6 linked regions of the Homo sapiens genome follow. The protein of the gene in region 4 interacts with the protein of the main gene of each other region in a pairwise test. Each region holds a gene or a part of one and is shown on either strand. Other genes may lie near its edges. The genes, in order: CCDC33, CCDC136, GLIS2, WT1, KRTAP10-4 and KPNA5.

What was found.
Region 1: the proteins of WT1 (region 4) and CCDC33 interact in a two-hybrid assay, tested with the Homo sapiens proteins (one large-scale study listed by BioGRID and IntAct).
Region 2: the proteins of WT1 (region 4) and CCDC136 interact in a two-hybrid assay, tested with the Homo sapiens proteins (one large-scale study listed by BioGRID and IntAct).
Region 3: the proteins of WT1 (region 4) and GLIS2 come close enough for resonance energy transfer, tested with the Homo sapiens proteins (one large-scale study listed by BioGRID).
Region 5: the proteins of WT1 (region 4) and KRTAP10-4 interact in a two-hybrid assay, tested with the Homo sapiens proteins (one large-scale study listed by BioGRID and IntAct).
Region 6: the proteins of WT1 (region 4) and KPNA5 interact in a two-hybrid assay, tested with the Homo sapiens proteins (one large-scale study listed by BioGRID and IntAct).

What each region holds. Positions count from the first base shown.
Region 1 is NC_000015.10:74,277,826-74,281,325, forward strand, and holds part of CCDC33 (coiled-coil domain-containing protein 33), read left to right. Parts: intron 1-1,293; exon of another isoform or gene 1,294-1,467; intron 1,468-2,137; coding exon 2,138-2,267; intron 2,268-2,842; coding exon 2,843-2,976; intron 2,977-3,500.
Region 2 is NC_000007.14:128,812,468-128,815,967, forward strand, and holds part of CCDC136 (coiled-coil domain-containing protein 136), read left to right. Parts: intron 1-240; coding exon 241-462; intron 463-2,170; coding exon 2,171-2,452; intron 2,453-3,146; coding exon 3,147-3,464; intron 3,465-3,500. UniProt on the Homo sapiens protein: May play a role in acrosome formation in spermatogenesis and in fertilization.
Region 3 is NC_000016.10:4,322,567-4,326,066, reverse strand, and holds part of GLIS2 (zinc finger protein GLIS2), read right to left. Parts: intron 1,420-3,500; exon of another isoform or gene 1,292-1,419; intron 798-1,291; exon of another isoform or gene 713-797; intron 1-712. UniProt on the Homo sapiens protein: Can act either as a transcriptional repressor or as a transcriptional activator, depending on the cell context. Acts as a repressor of the Hedgehog signaling pathway. Represses the Hedgehog-dependent expression of Wnt4.
Region 4 is NC_000011.10:32,394,040-32,397,539, reverse strand, and holds part of WT1 (Wilms tumor protein), read left to right. Parts: intron 1-1,132; coding exon 1,133-1,283; intron 1,284-3,500. UniProt on the Homo sapiens protein: Transcription factor that plays an important role in cellular development and cell survival. Recognizes and binds to the DNA sequence 5'-GCG(T/G)GGGCG-3'. Regulates the expression of numerous target genes, including EPO.
Region 5 is NC_000021.9:44,572,372-44,575,871, reverse strand, and holds KRTAP10-4 (keratin-associated protein 10-4), read right to left. Parts: upstream 2,144-3,500; 5' UTR 2,114-2,143; coding exon 908-2,113; 3' UTR 501-907; downstream 1-500. UniProt on the Homo sapiens protein: In the hair cortex, hair keratin intermediate filaments are embedded in an interfilamentous matrix, consisting of hair keratin-associated proteins (KRTAP), which are essential for the formation of a rigid and resistant hair shaft through their extensive disulfide bond cross-linking with abundant cysteine residues of hair keratins.
Region 6 is NC_000006.12:116,729,711-116,733,210, forward strand, and holds part of KPNA5 (importin subunit alpha-6), read left to right. Parts: coding exon 1-31; intron 32-2,425; coding exon 2,426-2,613; 3' UTR 2,614-3,500. UniProt on the Homo sapiens protein: Functions in nuclear protein import as an adapter protein for nuclear receptor KPNB1. Binds specifically and directly to substrates containing either a simple or bipartite NLS motif.

The sequences.
Region 1 (3,500 bases), on a different chromosome or scaffold from region 4:
CCATTTAGACACATGAATAGGTCCCAGAAAGGGCAGCTAGCGTCTACTAAATAACCCTCTTCCAGGGTAGGAGCAAGGTATGGACGGCAGGGGACTGAGTCACAGGTGCCCCAATGCCTGGCAGACAGTCCCAGCCATGTGGACCCTCCTGCACCCAGGAGAATGGGGTGACTCTGGGAGGGACATGGTTTGGGGATCAATCTTGAAAGATCACTCCCAAGCCCCACAGAAGTCAGAACCAACTTCTCTCACCGGACCTGTTGGCCAAGCTCCCATAAGAAGTGGGATGTTCCCATCATTGCAGTCTCTGTTCAGGTGTCCAGGGCACCCTAGCCCTGCAGTGACTGCAACCCATCTCCCCAGGGGCAGGGGCAGACACAGCTGAGCCTTGGGCTGGGCCTGGACAAACCAGGCCCATTAGTGTGACCGTCATCAGCACCCTGCCACTGTGGGGAAGTGGACCTACACTGATATTTCATGATCCTGCATCAATAACTCCTGGAGCCGCAGTGCATTTGTGCTGACCTTTTCGAGCAATGACTGATTCCTGTGGGGGAGCAGGAGGTGGGAGCGGCTGCTACTGTTGCTGACAGCCCCTGGCTGGGGAACAGAGGCAAGGCAGCCACTTGGTGGGTCTGTAGCAACGACCCGCAGCCCCGCCCTGTGCTGGGACCCTGCAGGGCTGCCTGCTGGGAGTTATGGGCCGATGGCCATCTCCCATCTCCCACCTTCTGGCCTTGGCAGATGCTGGGCCTCCCCCTGGAGTCTCTCCTCATTTCAGGCGTCCTCTGCACAGGGTGTGCTCAGTGCCACTCCACATTTTTGATTGTGCTGTTTTCCCATCCTGAAGACCTTTATCCCTCTCTTCACCCAGCCAGACCTTCCTTCAGAGCCTTTCTCTGGTTCTGCTTCCTTTAAGGAGGCTTTTCTGACCACCCATGGGAATATTTCATATAGCTCTCTTATTGGGCAGTGCTACAGTTAATACTGTCTTGTTTCATTGTTTAAATCATACCCATGTGTGTGCCCTAACTGCTGACCTAGGGTGCCATCAAGTCCCCCGAGTGCCCACTGGCCCACACTGCGGGCACACGGAGCCTCTGTAGTCTGCAGAGATGTCTTGGCCTCTGCAAGGGGCTGGGGAAACTGTGTGGGAAAGAGAGGGGCTGGTGACACAGACAGAGGTCATGTCTAACTTGGCATCTGTGACACCACCAGCCATGGGTGTGAACACAGATACAACACTTTAGGAAAACAGTTTACCAATAATGAATGAGGTGTCCTAAAATACACATGTCCTATAACCCAGCAATTCCATTTTAGGTAGTTGTACTAAGGAAGTAATTTGCGACATGAAGATATGTAGCAGAGAACGTTCAATGCAGTGTTATTACAGGGAAAAATGGGAAGGAAGAAATCAGGGCACTTGGACATGAACTTCATATCCTGAAGTTACTCAAGTCATGGGTAATGAGCTTTCTGTGACTTTGGATCTGCTTAGGTTTTACTGGCAAATGAAAAATGCAGGATGCTAGAATGGTGATTATACACAAAATATACACAGAAAAAAACTAGGAAGAAGCACAGTTTTATGAATTATTGTGTTTATCATAGGAACACAGGAGCTGTTTTTCTTCTTCCTATTTTTCTGCATTTTCCTAAATGTATTTATTAGGTGTGTGCTGCATTTATTTGTTTATTTATTTATTTATTTATTTTATTTATTTAGAGACGGAGTTTCGCTCTGTCACCCAGGCTGGAGTACAGTGGCGCAATCTCATCTCAGGGCAACCTCTGCCCCCCCGGGTTCAAGCAGTTCTCCTGCCTCAGCCTCCTGGGTAGCTGGGATTACAGGAGTCCCCCACCACACCTAGCTAATTTTTGTATTTTTAGTAGAGACAGGGTTTTGCCATGTTGGCCAGGCTGGTCTTGAACTCCTGACCTCAAGTGATCCACTTGCCTTGGCCTCCCGAAGTGCTGGAATTACAGGCGTGAGCCACTGTGCCCAGCCAGCTTGCTTTTATAGTTGGGAGAAACATTTGTGACAAATCTAGATACACAAAACCAAATATCTGTGTATGCCTTGATTTGGGAGAAGCTGTGGCCCCCACCACCTGCTCCTACCCTCTCCCTCCAGCTGTCCAAGCCTGGGGGACCCCCAGAGCAGCCCCTGTGGAATCAGTCCTTCCTCTTCCAAGGCCGAGATGGAGCTACCAGCTTCTCAGAAGACACAGCCCTGGTGCTGGAGTACTACTCCTCAACTTCAAGTACGTGACCCCTGGTGCCTCGCCAGGGCAGCCATGCCTCAGGAGATCTGTATTATGAAAGGGTGTTCAGACCATCCCACCTCTGCCTCCCACAGGGATGGATGGTTCCCAGGTGTCCAGGCGGCTTCCTAATGCAGGCAGAGGAGAGCTGGCTGCGTTCCTTGTCCACAGGCCAGGACACGTGGGCCTGTCCCATACTAGGTCTTGGCCCCAAGCTTTGTTTTATTGCACCCATCAGTGATGGGGGAGGGCTGGAGCCCTCGGAACTCACAGAGAGGGGTGAGGGAGATGGGCTTCAGAGACCAGCTGATCCACAGTTTTCTGCACTGTGGGATTGAAGCCCCCAAAGGGTAGAGATGAGGCTGATGTATATAAATTCCCAGACACACAGAGTATGTTTAGAGTTGGCTTTGAGTTCACAAAGCCCTGAAGATGAGAAGAGGATGTATGTGCAGGGAAAGGCCAGGAGGCAGGAAAGCAGGCAGCGGGAGACAGGAGGACTGGATGTCAGGTATTAAAGGATGGGGCCGAGGTGGGGGCTTTGGCAGGAGCCCTAGTTGATCCTTCCCCCACAGTGAAAGGCAGCCAGCCGTGGACCCTCAACCAGCCCCTGGGCATCTCTGTGTTGCCGCTAAAGAGCCGTTTGTACCAGAAGATGCTGACAGGGAAAGGCTTGGACGGGCTTCACGTGGAGCGGCTCCCCATCATGGTGAGCCCCCTGCCCTGAACTGGGCCCCTAGCGTGCCCACCTGGCCCCACCCTGCCTCACCCTGCCCCACCTCACCACACCTCCATAGGAGAATTTGGCTTCTCCAGAAGCTTCTGTCAAGGCACCCACCAGGGAAGTCACCCAGTCTAGAAGTGAGGAGCTCCCTGGAACCCCAGAAGCCAGTCTTGCCTCTGGGACTATGACGAACCAAGCCAGAGAAATTGCCCCTGAGCAACTTGGGAGACAAGTACAGGGTGACCCTGTGAGACAGTGCAAGAGTTCAGGCTTTCAGCCAGCCAGACCCTGATTTGAACCACAGTTCAAATCCTCACTGTGGAAATTCAGGCACATTACTGAACCACAAGAGTCCTCGTCTGTAACACAGGAGAAGCATGCCAAGTACACAATCTCTGTGTATAACAAGAGAGTTCAGAGCTCAGGCTCTAGAGCCAGACTGTCTGGGTCCAAATTCTGGTTCCACCACATACCAGCTAACATGACCATGGGAAAACTACTGAAAGTGT
Region 2 (3,500 bases), on a different chromosome or scaffold from region 4:
CCTGGTCTCCCGCTCAGCCCTCTCATAGAGAGAATCCCCCATCTGGACAGAGGCCCATAAGATTCAGTCCGTTTCCTCACCACAGCCACGATGCTCTTTATGGGGGTAAATATAGTAATCCCCCGCGGGCATCTCTGGATCCTGGTGGCCATTGTTTGGTATCCAGGGAAGGGCCCAGCAGAGTAGGGCGGAGCTTAGGTGCTCCTCAGGGTGCTATTGTTGCTCCCCCACCCCCCGCAGCGCTTTGAGGAAATGGTTGTGAAAGTGCTGATCAAGCTGCAGGCGGTGCAGGCCATGTACCAGATAAGCCAGGAGGAACACAGCCAGCTGCAAGAGCAGATGGAAAAGTTACTGGCCAAGCAGAAAGACCTGAAGGAAGAGCTGGATGCCTGTGAAAGGGAGTTCAAGGAGTGCATGGAATGCCTTGAAAAGCCCATGGCCCCCCAGAACGACAAGAATGAGGTAACCACTGTCAGGGAGGCAGGGTTTCCTCTGGCAGCCCCTGGAGCCATAGAGGTCATGGCCACTTCATAGAGGCTAAAGAGAGGGACAAAGCAGGGAGAATATGCACCTCAGAGGCTGGGCAGTCTGCTCCATCCCTGATGACATTTCCCAAGTGCCCGTGGAGCTGGGGTTTACTAGTCATCAGGACTTCTCTCATCGAATGATTTCTCTCTTTCTCCCTTTGCCACTTCTGTTCTCTTTTGCTTTGTGTTCTAGACCACTTCTGTAGAACTGTATTTTTGCATTTGCCAATCTTCTTTCATCATTTTGTGTGCATTTGCCTTGTCTCCCGGTGCACCAACTAGGAGCACCAACTAGATTGCAAGCAGCTCAAGGACAGGGACATGTCTCCTTTTGGATCGCTCACAATGCCAAGAAGAGTGCTCTGCACCCCCTAGGAATGGGACAGAAGTCTTGTCTCTGGCCAGGGGTTCACGGTCCAGTGGGGGTCTCTTTGTATACACACGGGAGAGATTCAGAGAGCAGCGAACACATGGGTCCAGATTGGCTAGTATTGGTACCTACTGAGGGGATGGTTGTGTGCTGCCATCAGCCAAGGAAGACAAAACCCGAGATCAGGGAGCAGGATGTGACTTGCCTCTGTTTCCAGGGTGAGGTGCAGGAGCCCAGTACACACTTCAGGAGTGTACAACACAGTTCTTTAAGTAATTGTTCCTGTTAGAGAGATGGGTTGGATGAAGTAGGAGTTCCCATAAAAAGAATTCTAGGCCAGGTGCGGTGGCTCACCCCTGTAATCTCAGCACTTTGGGAGGCCGAGGCGGGTGGATCACTTGAGGTCAGGAGTTTGAGACCAGCCTGGCCAACTTGGAGAAACCCCATCTCTACTAAAAATACACAAAATTAGCTGGGCATGGTGGCGCATGCCTGTAATGCCAGCTACTCAAGAGGCTGAGGCAGGAAAACCGCTTGAATCCAGGAGGCGGAGGTTGCGGTGAGCCAAGATCATGCCATTGCACTCCAGCCTGGGCAACAAGAGTGAAACTCTTGTCTCAAAAAAAAGAATTATATAATAAATCCCTGAGGTTCAGAATTGGTAGCAGCCCTATTGTTATTCCCCAGTCACAGTAGAAAACACCATTTAAATCATTGTTTTGACCTTCTTTTTTTTTTTTGAGACAGAGTCTTGCTCTGTCACCAGGCTGGAGTGCAGTGGCACGATCTCAGCTTCCTGCAACCTCCGCCTCCTGGGTTCAAGTGATTCTCCTGTTTCAGCTTCCCAAGTTTCTGGGACTACAGGCGCGCTCCAATAAGCCCAGCGAATGTTTGTATTTTTAGTAGACATGGGGTTTCACCATGTTGGCCAGGCTGGTCTCGAACTCCTGACCTCAAGTGATCTGCCCACCTCAGCCTCTTGAAGTGCTGGGATTACACTGGATGGCAAGTGAGCCGCTGCGCCCTGCCGTTTTTTTCATCTTATTAGATGGACATCATCAGGTGCCTCAAGTTAGGAGAAGCTATTTGTAAAACTATTTGAGAGGCTCATTTTCCACCGTTGAATATTTTCTTTATTGTCTACTTCCTATGGGCTTTAACAGGGAGATTTCTGAGACAGTGACCCCCAAGCAGGGCTGAGTTTGGTTGCGTGGTCAGCCAACTGGTTGCATAACCAGCCAACTCTGGGTAACTGGCCCTCCACTACCAACAGATCAAAGAACTGCAGACCAAGCTGCGGGAGCTGCAGCTGCAATACCAGGCTAGCATGGATGAGCAGGGGCGGCTTCTGGTAGTGCAGGAGCAGCTGGAGGGGCAGCTGCAGTGCTGCCAGGAGGAGCTCCGCCAGCTCAGGGAGAAGAGGCCTTCTGTTGTCAAAGAAGCCCGGGGGAAGAATGCTAATAAGAACATGAACAAGAATGCCAATGGGGTTAAAATGAAAAAGGTGACCAAGCCATGCTCGGATACTTCTGAGAGCGACCTTGAGACCAGAAAGGTGAGTAGTAACCTTGGTAGCCAGATAAGCAGAAAGGAGGAGGAGATCCTGGGAAGAAGCATTGCCTCCACAACCCTTTCAACCAGGCAAGGGATTTGTAGAGAAGCTTCTGGGATCTCTGAAGTGTCTACAGTGGTTCCCATCTTAATGGAAAGTGGGTGCTCCCTTTTCCTGTGAAGTTATGGGGAGAGTGGAACACAGACAACTCACATCGGGAGGTGCAGCCCCAAAGGACCACAGCCCCTAGGCTGGACAACTCCTTCAGTTTGCCCAGCCCCATTTGTTGGGGCTCCTGTTCTTCCTGGGTTACATGCCCAAGAGAAGAACCAAATAGATGAAGAGGGAGGAATTTGTTCAAAGTAGTTATGTACTAATAAGTGAAAGAGGATTGGGTAAAAGAAGAGTCACTGTAGGGGTGGGAAGCAACAATTTAGGTGCAGAGCCCAAGACTCTTTAGTTGTGGTAGCTGTTTGAAATGGCTTAATGGCCAACAGACATAGTGGCCCTGAGAGGTGAGGTGTGATGCCCTCTACATATGCTCAGGGGATTGGCTCACAGTCCCAGAGCACCGGGCCACACCCTTGCACTCTGACATGCTGGAAGTCATGTTTCCTGGAGCTAGTACAGCATTGTCATGAGATTAGGAGCTTCACAGGTAACGCAGCCGCCATCCTGCCCTACTCCCACCCCACAGAGTCTGGAGGTAGTGCTGTACTACAAGGCCAGCCAGAGGAAATTAGATGGACTAGCAAAAGAGGAGGAAAAGAAAGAGGAGATGGAGGAGGAAAAAAAGCAAGTGAAAGAGGAAGCAAAGGAGCAGTGTGGGGATGAGCTAGTTGCTGAGCCAGCAGATCCTGAGGAAGCTAAATCCACAGAAGATCAGGAGGAAAATGAAGAGGACAAAGAGGAAGAGGAGAAGGAAGAAGACAGTGAAGAGGAGGAGGATGACGCCGACTCTTCCCTTGAAAGTCCCGAAGAAAATAACCCCCTCAGACTTTCCGAGAGCAAAAAGGTAACCAGAGCCAAAGCCTAGATCAAGTGGGAAGTG
Region 3 (3,500 bases), on a different chromosome or scaffold from region 4:
TAGGGTTTCACCGTGTTAGCCAGGATGGTCTCGATATCCTGACCTCGTGATCCGCCCACCTCGGCCTCCCAAAGTGCTGGGATTACAGGCGTGAGCCACCAAGTCTGGCCTTTTTTTTTTTTTTTTTTTTTTTTTTTAAGACACAGAGTCTTGCTCTGTCTCCCAGGCTGGACTGCAGTGGCGTGGTCATGGCTAACTGCCGCCGAGGCTCAAGAGATCCTCCTGCCTCAGCCTGCAGAGCAGCTAGGACCACAGGTGCACCACCACCACACCCAGCTCATTTTTAAATTTTTTATTTTGCAGAGATGGGGGGGTCTCCCTGTGTCATCCAGGCTGGTCTCGATCTCCTGGACTCAAGCCATCCTCCTGTCTCTGCCTCCCAAAGTGCTAGGATTACAGGCAGGAGCCACCACGCCCAGCCCGTCATCTTCTAATTTAACAGAAAGAGGAAGTGAGTCCCTGGTCACTCCTGAACCAGTCAGAGAAACCCTGGTCTGTGGGTGTCCCTGAGTCTATTACTGGAACCATCACTTCAGCAGTATGGTCTTACAGATGGGGAAACTGAGGGCTGAAGGGGGAGGCATCCAGCCCAGGCTGCACAAGTAGGTGGCAAACCCACAACCAGAAGCCACGGGCAAGCAGCATGAGGACAGTACCCATAGCCAGGTGCGGGTACTGTGAAGGCAGGTGCTGTTTCATCCCCATTTTACAGATGCAAAAACTGAGGCTCAGGGGAGTGAAGTGACCCATCCAAGGTCCCACAGCTTGTCCGTGGCAGAGCTGGGTTTCAACCCCAGGTAAGTCCAGAAGCCATGTTCACTATTGGCCCTTCCTATGTCAGGGGCTCAGGCTTGGTACCCCCTCCCCGCCCAGGGACTTGTGGGGCTAGGAGGGATAGCAGAGCAGGCAGTGGGTGGGCGCTGGAGGGGCTGGCTGGGGTGGGGGGCCCACCAGGAGGCTTGGAGAGCCGAGGGCAGATCTGCTGCCAAAGCAAACGGCCCCACAGCCCCAGATTCCTGGGAACCAGCTGCGGCTCCCTGCTCTGGCCAAGAGCTCCACCCTCCTTGGCCGCCCAGCAGCAGGGGCTGGCGGGCAGGGGCAGGGCCTGCTGGGGGCCCCAGGCAGGAGGGCTCGTCCTCTCAGGGCCCCCCTTCCTGACCAGGCAACAGAACCGGACTCGAAATCTGGGGCCCCACCCGGCTCTGCTACTCCCTTTGCGTGTCTCTTCAGTCTGCGCCTCATCCCCCTCATCCCAAATGGGATTATATAGGACCCCCATGTTGGGTTTCAGGGAGAAACCAATGCAGTGCTGCACATCCAATCACTATTGAGTGCTTCTCCTTCGTCCGTAACGTTCAGCACGGAGAACAGTGCCTGGCACATAGTAGGTGCTTAATAAAACGTGCTGAATGAATCGTCGCCAGTGTGCATGAGTCCATAGCCTTTGGCCCATCTACCGCTGTGAGGGCAGCTGAGTGGGGACTGGCCATCCCCTCTATGCCACTGCAGTCTCACCCTGAACCAGGAGAACCTGGGCTCTGCCACCTGCCAGCCAGCGTGCACCCTAAACAAGCCTATGCCCCTCAAAGAACCTCAGGCCTCTTCAATCCTGGGGAGTGACCACAGCTGGCCCTAACCACCTTCCAGAGCCCAACTGCATCAAAGAAAGAGCACTACAAGGCCCCGGGAAGGCCTGATCAACCCTGGAAGGAGCTGGCCGCAGACAGGCCTCCTCCCAGGACTGGAGGGGGAGGAGCTTATCCTGAGGCCTGGCCCAGCAGATCCCAGGAGAGGGGCCAGGGCAGGCGGCACTTCCTGGAAGAGTGGGGGATTCACCGTCCCTGGGAACCTTTGGCTCAGTAGGCAGCCCCTCCCCCTCCCAAGACGGGGCACTCAGCCAGCACCCCCGGACCTTTTGGGAGGGCAGACCCCCTCCCGGGGTGGGAACACAAGGGGTCCGAGGTGACCCAGCCAGGGCTGACCTCTGCCCTCTGCCGTGGGGTCCTCGGGAAAGCACCTGAAGATGGGATGTGCCAGGGATCTTTTTTCTGCGTGTTCACAGAGTGTGCCCCAGGGCCAGGCTGCCTGGTTACAGCCCCCTGTGCCACCCCTGGCTGTGGGAACTCAGAAAGGCCCTGCTGTCTCTGAGCCTTGGTTTCCTTGTAGGTAACAGACACCACGGCAATGGTCCCTGGGACTCAGGGCATCTTGCAAGGGAGGGCCTTGTCCTCATGCCTGCCATAAAGAAGCTGCCAGCTACTGGTAACCTAAAGGATTCTTGTTTCCGGCCCCAGGCTGGGGGTTCCCTGCACAGCAACTTGGGCCTGCCAAGGTCACCCAGATAATTCAGGCAGAGCTGAAGCTGGAAGACGGGCCGGAGGGCTTCCCTGGCCTGCACCAGCCCGGGCTTCCTAGGAGATGCCCCACCAGAGGCACTTCCTTCTCCAACGCCAGCAGGGAGGGTGACACCGGGCTCCGGGAGCCCCGGCACACACACGCACACTCACACAGATGGCCATGGCAGTCCAGCTGCAGGGCCGGCCTGGCACAGAGGCCTCCCCATCCTGGTGGCTCCGGGCCCCTGCTGCAGTGGCCTCCACCCCCCCGCTGCCTGCCCGCTGCTGCACCTTTGCACAACTATGTCTGGTATTTTCCTGTCTGCCCAGCTTTGGGGGGGTGCTTGGAGCTATGATCACCGCCTGCACCTGGGCCCCAGCCAGAGGAAAGCCCGCCCCGCAGCCCCCACACCTGCCCACCCACCCGGGCTGGGAGGGGAGGGGACCAGAGCACTGGGCCCTGCCACCCAAATCCCTGGGAGGGGCTGGCACCAGGGAGCGAGACAGGGATGCACGCCCAGCAAGGCTGGGGCACAGACAGCCCAGGCCCTGCCAGGCGGCACTGCCATTCTCAGCAGACCCAGCCAGAGCTATCTGAGGCCAGCAAAGGGATGGGCCAGTGTAGCACAGGACATGAGCAGGCACCCACAGCACCCCCGGATGTACAGACACCTGTGCACAAATGTGGCACACACAGGACATCACAGTAACCCCTTGCCCCAGTGTCGGGGCCAGGACTCAGGAGCCTTGGCTTCTGGGGGAGAGCAGGGATGAGGCCGGGTCCCCAGAGCGAAGGAAACACCGCGCCTCCCAAGCCACGCCTGGCTGCAGGCAGATCCCACAAGGAGCTCCTAAGTCCTGGGGGGTCGGGGCAGGCCCGTGGCCCACGCCTCCCCTGCCTGGGGCCAGGTACCAGGTCCACTGGGAACGGCACCCGCCAACTCCGAGAGCAGGAGTGGGTAAGGCGGGCGGTGGACCTTGGCCTGCCCTCCTGCCTCGGTTCTCCAACCACGCATTCATGCATTCCAACGCCAGGCCCTGCTAGATCGAACCGGACCTTGAGGGTGCCCCGACCAAGGTGGGGTGGGAGAAACAGTGTAGGGGGGGGGCTGCTCCTGCAGGGGGTTGGGCACAGATCCGGGTCAGCCTCATGGATATGGGGTG
Region 4 (3,500 bases):
GAGACCAGCCTGAGCAACATAGGGAGACCCTATCTCTACCAAAAAAAAAAAAAAAAATTAGCTGGGCATGATGACTCTCACCTGTTGTCCCAGCTGTTCAGGAGGCTGAAGTGGGAGGATTACTTAAGCTGGTGAGGTCGAGGCTGCAGGAGCCCCGATCGTGCCACTGCACTCCAGCCTGGACAACAGAATAAGATCCTGTCTTAAGAACAAACAAAACCAAAACATGGATGCACTCTTGTGTCAGCATCTCACCGCCTTTGGGGTTGATTTACTCATCTATAAAGGAATGAGGAGAATTTAGTGGCCACTCAGGCACTTGCTCAGCTCCCATTTATGACTCCCTGACCCCAAGAAGAGGAAGGGGAGCTTGCCTCTTTGTTTTCCTCCAGTTCTTATTCTTGGAAGACTGACAACACACACACTGCACTTCCACAAGATAAAGGGGAGCAACAGATGCCCTGCAAAGGACGTGTGCAGAGCACAGAAGGCAGATGGATTCCAGTGCTTTCTGGCCTCACTATTAAAGGTTGTGCTGGCTTCACCATGGCCTTCTGGTGGGTTTTGCTTCCTTTCACAGATGGGATCCCCAAATCCAGGGGCTTCTTCTTCCTTGTTATTTACTTATACTTGGACGATCTGGTCAGTTAGGGGCTCATTCATTATCCCACTTTTTTCTAATAAGGATGTCCCCACCCATTGCAGACTGGCTCTAGGTCATGTGGTCATGACTCCAAGTGGGAGGGAGTAGTTAGACTTTGGGACTTTGGACTTGCAGACATCACTACCTCAAGAGGAGAAGCTGAGAGATAGAATGGATTGGGAGCTCTTCCAGGTACCAGCATTTCTTTTGCAGAGGCTCTGGGACAGCCATTTCATGTAGGTTTCATCTCAACAGCCACTTCTGGTTGCTCAGTAGTGATGATCTTAGAGCACTGCATTGTAGAATGTCCTGATCTAGCATCCATTACTGATGTCTGCCATGGGGATCTGGAGTGTGAATGGGAGTGGTTTTAGGTCTGCACCTGCCACCCCTTCTTTGGATATACTCCAGTGCTCACTCTCCCTCAAGACCTACGTGAATGTTCACATGTGGCTTAAAGCCTCCCTTCCTCTTACTCTCTGCCTGCAGGATGTGCGACGTGTGCCTGGAGTAGCCCCGACTCTTGTACGGTCGGCATCTGAGACCAGTGAGAAACGCCCCTTCATGTGTGCTTACCCAGGCTGCAATAAGAGATATTTTAAGCTGTCCCACTTACAGATGCACAGCAGGAAGCACACTGGTAAGTGTGCCCGCTGTCCAGTCTTGGGCAAACATGGTTCAAGAGCTCCTTTTCCAGGCTCTCACACTGCTAAGGACCCAGGTTATTTCCAGGATGGAAAGTAAGCACTGCTTTGAAAGGTCTGATCCAGGTGTTGTAAAGAGGCTGTGGGGCCATTTTGCATTCTGATTATCTATCCTTTATTACAGAGGTCAGTAAACTGTCTTCCAGAAAGGCAGAGCAGAGTGGTAGAGAGAAAGTGCCACAGAATTAAAGAGACCTGTGTAGGAATCGTGTTGGTGTTAGAATACTATTAGCATTTCTAAGGAGAGAGGAGCTGGCCTGGGAATATAGTCATCAGATGGTTTTAGGAGGTCGATGGGCAAGATCATTGTGAAATTTTAGAAGAGATGGTCCAAAGAAAAACTTACCTGCTTGGGTCAGTAATAATCAACTAGACAGGAAGGGGAAAATTGATTGTTAGTTTGATTTTTTAGTGATCACTTAAAAAAAAAAGGTCAGTCATGGGGGCTCACGCCTGTAATCCCAGCACTTTGGGAGGCCGAAGTGGGTGGATCACCCAAGGTCAGGAGTTGGAGACCAGCCTGGCCAACAAGGTGAAACCCCGTCTCTACTAAAAATACAAAAATGAGCCGGGTGTGGTGGCACGCACCTGTACTTGGGAGGCTGGGGCAGGAGAATTGCTTGAACCTAGGAGGCAGAGGTTGCAGTGAGCTGAGATCTTACCACTGTACTCCAGCCTGGGCGACAGAGCAAGACTCTGCCAAAAAAAAAAAAAAGGAGAGAGAGAGATGATGATTTTTTATCTTTGAAGATACGCCAATGAAACTGGATTTTCCCCCAGGTCAGAGAGGCTGCTTCTGGGAAACAGAGAACTGGCATTGTTTGGTGTTGGCCACCTTGAATGTGGACAGCCATGTCACAGAACGTTTACTCTGGGCCTTGTGGGCACTAGGTGGGAGTGTGGGAGTGTGGTAAAACCCAGGTTTTCCTACAGAGGAGCTACTGCTGCCTTTTCCACAATCGAAGAACAGCATTATTATAGGATCACTGTTGCAACTGTGTTATTACTGCTGATTTTGCTCTTGGGAAGCTGGAGAAAAAAGTGAGCTGCATTCAGATTTCCTTGGACCATTGAAATTTGCTAATTCACTGTGTCCAGAGGATGCAATTCTGGTGTCAATCTGAGTTTGCACTCAGTGGGCCACAGACTTTGAGGCTAAAAAGGAGGGGACCAGTGGCATGTTATGTTTTTACACATTTCCCCAAATGGGATCATTTGAAAAGTGACTGTCAAGGTTATAAGGAAAACGAGAAAGTAAAGTCCTGCCTGAAAAATGCAAGGGAATAAATGAAGGCAATATGGTTGTAGAAACTTTTAGTGAGAGAGAAGCACTTAGAATGCAGTGAGGGTTAGACAACTGTGTGAAGGGAAGGCAGTGAACAAGACAGCCAAAACCCCAGACCCACTGGAGCCTTTAAGAAACTCTTCCTTGCAGAAGATGAGGGCAGGTTGGTATTTAACAATCCTACAGTCCCCCTTGAAAGAGAGCAATATTTTCTTATTTATTTATAACAACAGTACAGACTGTTATATTAAGTACTTTTTGGGTGTCAGGCTCTCTACATGTATATTTCATTTAATCCTCACTCACAAAACATTTATGAAGAGTATAGGATATAGCAGAAAGAGGACTCAAACTCCTTCTTTTTAACTGCAGGTTATAATCCTCCTTCTCAAAGAGTTCCTGGTTTGTTTGGGAGCTAGGATATAAAGAAATGAAAAGTGACTGAGAGAGTACATGATCATGTACTAAATCAGAGACAGGAGGTACCGAGGGGTTTGGAGGGTATCAGTTTGAACTAAGGTCATCCGAGAAAGTTTCTCAGAGGAAGAACAGCTTGGGTTAGCCAGTGGAGGCTGGTAGTTTGGGCAGAGAAAGTGATAGATGAGCAGAAGCTCAAAGGCAGGGGAAGGAAATCAGACTCAATAGGGGTAACATCTTCTCCAGCTCACAGAGGTGAAACATAAGGCACCAACCTGGATACAAATACAAAGAAAGGGGCCAGGTGCAGTGGCTCACACCTGTAATCCCAGTATGTTGGGAGGCGTAGGCGGGAGGATTGCTTAAGGGGTTCAAGACCAGCCTGGGCAATATAGTGAGACCCTGTCTCTAAAAAAAATATTTTTAAAAATTTAGCCAAGTGTGCTGGTGT
Region 5 (3,500 bases), on a different chromosome or scaffold from region 4:
GTCGAGGAGATGATTCTGCTCACACAGGGTGGAAGCGAAGCGACAGAGACCCAATTCCAATCGCCTGTCTGTGTTCCTCCCACCATGCCAGTGATGTCTGCACAGGGCACAAGAGGTTTTAGGCAATGTCGATGAAGACTACTGATTTTGAAGCTAGGGAGGCATTTGGACACACTCTGGGCAAGCATGGCGCTAGAAGACACCATTCTTATTTGACAAGTATTGTGCAGCAGAAGGATAATTTAAAAAGCAAATCAGCAAAAAGAACTATGACACGACTAACAACACAGGAGGGTTAGGGACAAACCCAAGGGCCCGAAATGGCCAAAGGGCTGCAAGGCTCCCCGCGTCCATGTCCGTCTAGCCTGGACCCCTGGGAACCACACGCCCCTGGGCACAGGAAAACACTCAGGGGCCTGAAGGACAGCAGAGGGTTGTGCACAAAGGAGAAAACCATGGCCGTGAGCTCCAGCCAAGGCATTAATCAACACACCTGGGTGTCAGCGCCATTGCAGTCTCAGGGCCTTTATTGGTCAGCTTGAGGGCGTCCAAAGAAGGCTCTGCGGCTCTGAGCCAGGAGGACAGAGACCTCACGGGTCAAGGCTGAACTGACCCTCATGAGAGGTGGGAGATATGGAGGGGAGGCCACTGCCATGGGAACTTTCTAGAAGCGCCCCCCTCCCCCCGCAAGAGGGCTGCAGCATTGAGTATAGACTTTCAGTTCTTCCATTGTCCAGCTCAACAGCAGACACCAGGAAATGGTCAAAGTGCAGGAGCAATTCAGGACGCGACTATCAGCTTTCAGGTGGGACCTGAGCCTGGCTGGCACTGGGGGGCGTGTCCATCAGCAGCTGGGCTTCTGACCTGAGCGGAGGCCTCAGCAGGCTGGGCGGGAGCACACGGGGCGTCAGAGGAGGGACACGCAGGAGGCTGGGCGGCAGCAGCTGGGTTGGCAGGAGGAGGTGGGAGCACAGCAGGAAGGGACGGGCACGCAGCAGGCGGGCCTGCACACGGGGCGGCAGAGGAGGGACACGGAGGAGGAGGGTCTGCAGCAGGAGGTGGTGCAGCAAGCTGGCTGGCAGCTAGATTGCTGGCAGCATGAAGAGGAAGCCCCAGAGCAAACAGGCACACAGCTCACAGGCTTGCAGCAGACGGGCACGCAGCAGCCCTGCTGGCTTTGGGAGGAGGTGCAGCAAGCTGGCTGGCAGCTAGACTGCTGGCAGCACAGAGAGGAAGCCCCAGAGCAGATGGGCACAGAGCAGACAGGCTTGCAGCACACAGGCTTGCAGCAGACAGGCACACAGCAAGCCTGCTGGCAGGGAGAGGAGGTGCAGCAAGCCGGCTGGCAGCTAGACTGCTGGCAGCATGAAGAGGAATCCTCAGAGCACACAGGCTTGCAGCAGACAGTCTTGCAGCAGACGGGCACGCAGCAGGCCTGCTGGCAGGAGGAGGAGGTGCAGCAAGCCGGCTGGCAGCTAGACTGCTGGCAGCACGAGGGCGTGCAGGAGCTGATGCAGCCTGATTGGCAGGGGCTGGGCTCACAGACCGCCTGGCAGCAGGGGCTGGACACACAGCTCACACAGCTAGACTGCTGGCAGCACGAAGAGGAAATCCCAGAGCAGACAGGCTTGCAGCAGATGGGCACACAGCAGGCCTGCTGGCAGGGGGAGGAGGTGCAGCAAGCTGACTGGCAGCTAGACTGCTGGCAGCATGAAGAATCCCCACAGCAGACGGGCACACAGCACACAGGCTTGCAGCAGACAGTCTTGCAGCAGACGGGCACGCAGCAGGCCTGCTGGCAGGGGGAGGAGGCACAGCAAGCCAGCTGGCAGCTAGACTGCTGGCAGCACGAGGGCGTGCAGGAGCTGGTGCAGCCTGATTGGCAGGGGCTGGGCTCACAGGTCACTGGGCAGCAGGGGCTGGACACACGGCTCACTGGGGTGCAGACCAGGCTCAGGCAGGGGGCCGGGGCGCAGCAGCTGGGGGCGCAGCAGGGGGGCTCGCAGCAGCTCTCTGGGCAGTCGTCCACCTGCCAGGAGTCGGAGCAAGAGTCACAGGAACCAGGAAGGCAGACGCGGCTGCTGTAGCTCAGGTCGCTGGAGCAGACGGACATGGTGGATGCTGCTGTGCTGGGGGTTGAGCTGGGGGAGATGGGAGGGAGTGGGTGAGCGAGTGAGTGAGGTGCTCGGGTTTGTGGGGCTTTTATACTCCTCCTTGGTGCATGTTGTCCAGACAGGAGGCTCAGCAAGCCCTCCCTTCCTTGTTGGGGTGTACAGCCAGCTCCAGGAGAATAAACAGTAGCTGTGTTTTTGTTTCCCAAGAGCTGTTGCTCAGTTTACAAAACTTGGAATTGGCCTGGGGCGCATGTGCGTGTTTTAGACTCAGGAGGAAGAGCTGAGGGGCAGTTCAGGCTGTGCTGCTTTGCTCCCCAGGCGCACGTGGAGGGTGGCATGGTCCACGTGTGTGCCGGGCTATGGGGAGTGGGTGCCTGCGGGTGGCTCTGCCGTGTGTGTGCTGGACTATGAGGAGTGGGTGCCTGTGGGTGGCTCTGCCGTGTGTGTGTGCCAGGCTATGGGGAGTGGGTGCCTACGGGTGGCTCCGCTGGGCCTTGGTTTTCTAGGCTGCTGAACAAGATCATGTGCCTCTGTGATTGAAAGCTTAGGGAGAGAGGTTTGTTTGGGTTCTAAGTAAAGATAATGTGAGTCATGGTTTGTATGCTGTAATGTATTCTTTTCCTTGGGCTGCCATGACAAACAGTACCACAAACTGGCTGGTCACACAACAGAAATTCCGTGTCTCATGGTTTTGGAAGCCAGAAGTCTGAGATCGAGGTGTGGACAGTGGACAGCATGGGTTCCTTCTGAGGCTGCGAGGGGCACTGTCTCACCCCGCTCCCCTCACTCCTGTGGGCTGCTGCTATCTTTGGGGTCCTTGGCTTACAGTGGCCTCACCTGAGCTCTGCCTTTATCTTCACACAGCTTCTCCGTGTGTGTGTGTGTGTGTGTGTGTGTGTGTGTGTGTGTGTGTGTGTGTGTGTCCAAATCTCCCCTTTTTATAAGGATACAAAGCATTATTGCAGTAGGGCCTATCCTAACAGCCTCCTCTTAACTTGATCACCTACAAAGACCCTATTTCCATATAGGGTCACATTCACATGTACCAGCGGTCAGGACTTCGGCACCTTTTGAGGGACACAATTCAATCCACAGCAAGCAGACACAATGGCAGAACCTGGGATGAGGACGTGGGCACGGGAGCAGAACCCGGGATGGGAAGGCAAGCACGGCAGAAGTGTTTCTTGTGGACTTGGGCCTGGGGCAGGTGGAGCATGGGGGGTGGCGAGGGTAGCACAGGACAGCAGGTGCCCAGCACTGGGCACTCAGCAGCCTTTGCTTGTGAGGTGTGGCTTGACCTCGTGGAATGGTTTTAGGGAATAGTGGCTGAAAAGCGGGGTTCACATCGCCCTTTGCCAGCTTCCCGACACCACCGCAGGTTGGTTC
Region 6 (3,500 bases), on a different chromosome or scaffold from region 4:
CCATACTGTGCTCTCATTGAAGAAGCATATGGTAAGCAATCAGTTAAAAATTTGCAATTATAGTCAGTTCTTATATCTGTCATACTTTCCCCTTCCAGTTCCCTACAATTTTTTTGTTGTAAAAGCAGTATGTATTTTTTTAAGTTTTAAAATGTCACCCGTAATTTTATTACCCTAACAATTTATTTTTATTATTTACCTTTTTTTAACATTGTCTGTATGCACAAATACTTTACATTGACTTAATTGTATTGTATGTATAGTTTTATGTTCTACTTTTTAACATTTTGGAGAAATTTTACATTTCTACATAATTTTTATTATAATGGCCACATAATGTTATGTATATACTATATATATATAAAAATATGTAATTTTTTTTTTTTTTTTTTTTGAGACACAGTTTTACTCCGTCTCCCAGGCTGGAGTGCGGTGGTGTGGTCTTGGCTCACTGAAACCTCCACCTCCCATGTTCAAGCAATTCATGTGCCTCAGCTTCCTGAGTAGCTGGGATTACAGGTGCATGCCACCATGCCCGGCTGATTTTTGTATTTTTAGTAGAGACGGGGTCTCTCCATGTTGGCTAGACTGGTCTCGAGCTCCTGGCCTCAAGTGATCCAGCCACCTCAACCTCCCAAAGTGCTGGAATTACAGATATGAGCCACCATGTCTGGCCATAATGCTACATATTGAGTCAAGTTTTAGCCATTTGAATGGAAGTTTAACCATAACCTGTTGTTGACCATTAGTTTGTTCCCAGTTTATCACTTTATGTATACCAAAATAAGCATCTTTCTGTGTATATGTTTATTTCTTTTATGGAATTAATATCTGGGGATAAATTTTCAGGAATACAGTTGCTGAGTCTTAGGGCACTGACTTCTTTTTAAGCTTTTGATGTCTTCTCATTTTGCTTTCCAAAGGCCTGTTGCTGACAGTGTCACTGGCATTGTATGAATCTATTCTACAACCTCATACTTGTTTTGTTTATTTTGTGGACTCAGCAGATGTAAAATAGTACACCAAGTTGCTTTTATGTACATTTTTTGGTTTATTTCCTATAGATAGTAGTATGTATTTTTCATGAGTTAGTCTGTGTCCTTATCCAAATTGCATATTTATTGTACTTTGTCTGGTTATCTATTTGACTTTTTTTTTTGGTAAAAATTTGAATTTTATTTTATAGTAGTTTATTTTGATATGACTTTTTCCTCGGTCTATTTTTTTTCAGATCATCCATTGAACACATTCTTTTATTTTAATAAAACATACCATGTTCATTTATGTTTAAATAACTCAGTCTAATTTTCTATTCTTTCAAAGTTTACAAAGTCATTGCCTCCACAGAGATTTGATGAAAATTAATTTTTTTATTTGCCAAGTTTTAAAAATTAGGTTCTTAAAACATTTAATCATATGGAATTTATTTTAGATAAGGCATGAATCTAAATTGATTTTCTTTTATTTGCATTAAATATTCACTTTTCTGTATTAAGTCCTCTTACATTGTATGGGTGATTCAGACTTTTATTTTTGATTCTTAAAGCCCATGATATCACTTTGTCTTTCTTTCAAATTATATAACATCACTGGATAAGACATTACATGAATACAAGATATTAGTCACTGATTTAAGAATATTGTCTTACTACAGTCATTATTTTGACCCCGAGTCAGACTAGGGTTTGAGCTATTCTGTGATTGTGTATAGATAGGACTGCTTTGCTGCTTTTTTTTCTGTGATAATCTGATTGAAGTCGTTTATCTGTAATTAAATGAAATGTATTTTCAGCACTACCCAGACTTACGTGTAGAGCTTTTTCTGATAAGCAGTAAAATCGATTGCTATAGATTCTTCTCATCTTTTCAAAATGAGGCCTTTCAGTTTCAATTGTAGATTGTAATTCTTTTAAACCGCACAACAGCCATATGTTTTTTATTGTATGGGTTTGGAAATTTTACACATTTATTTCATAGTGATACTCTCTGGCTCAGCGTGTTTTATTTTCTTCATTTAATTTGTTTTGTTGCTTTCCCTTTTTGGGCTTTGTTAATTACTCTAGAAAGGACCTGTGGAGTTAATCTAAAACTGCCATTTTACAGTTGAGAAACAGAAGAACTAAACTTACCTGGCCAAGATCACACACCTAGCAGGGTGGTGTCTGTGATCTTACTCCCAGGCCTATGGTCCTTCTTCGTATGACACTGCTACATACTCTCATTCTTGAAGTATAAATCGTAAGTGATGGCTATCGGTATGTGCAACAGTTAGATTAAAATAGTCCCGTTGCCAGTGAGGTGATAGATGATGTTCACTTATTATTTTGATTTAAACATATACTGAAATTGTAGTAACAGTTTGTTTATATATATATATATATATATATATATATATATATATATATATATATACTTTGTATAACAGGTCTGGATAAAATTGAGTTTTTGCAAAGCCATGAAAATCAGGAAATTTACCAGAAGGCATTTGATCTGATTGAACATTACTTTGGTGTAGAAGAAGATGACCCCAGCATTGTACCTCAGGTGGATGAAAACCAACAACAGTTTATATTTCAGCAGCAGGAAGCACCAATGGATGGATTTCAACTTTAACTTACTGGAGGAAAAAAAATTTATGGCTAAAAAGGGTAGCTTCAGGTAACTCCTCTTTGTTGCCAATGTAAGAATGTTTGTTTTTTTACATAGAACAGTAAAGAGAATTTGATGCACTTTTAGAAAGCAAAATGAAACAAAAATTTCCATTCAGATGCAACCTTTCATTGTAGTTTGTTGTTGTTTTAGTTTTGTTGTTGTGCCTGTATTTATATCTTCTATTGTTTGGATTTTTGTATCTATTTGTGAATAATTGAATATGCAATTATTTAGTAATTTAAGCTTGAAAAGGAGAATTTTGGTGAAGCATTACTTAGTAATTCTGAATTTTTTCAAGCATTCTTGGAAACTGCACATTAGCAGTAAACCTATTGATAATTGCATTTTGGCAGTAAGTCTTACACATCTAATCTCTACTAAATCTACCTCTATCTTGAAGCAGAAATAAAAACAAAAAAGCTTCAGAAGCATGAAATAATGCAAATGCTAAATTAGAATGTGAAAATATTTATTACCTTAAATTATACATATCACTGTGCTGTAGGTTATACTTTGCAAAAAATTGCAACAGAAAACCTATAAAATTTATTTATAAAACAGAAGAAATATTATACTGATAATCCATTAAAATGTGGCAATTGTGAAGGGAGAAGCTGTTTTTCATGTTGAACACATTAAAAAGATTACTTTATAAAATGTTTAAATATTTCTGTTTTTAACATATAAGTGCTATGTATATTAGTATATTTTGTATTTCAACCAAATATGCTACCATTTTTGAAATAGTGTTTTATTGTTTTTCACTCATTGTTTTAAAGAGCATCATGACAGAGATGTCATCATGAATCTAAAGTAGTGCTGCATATCTAAAATAATAACTAATTATT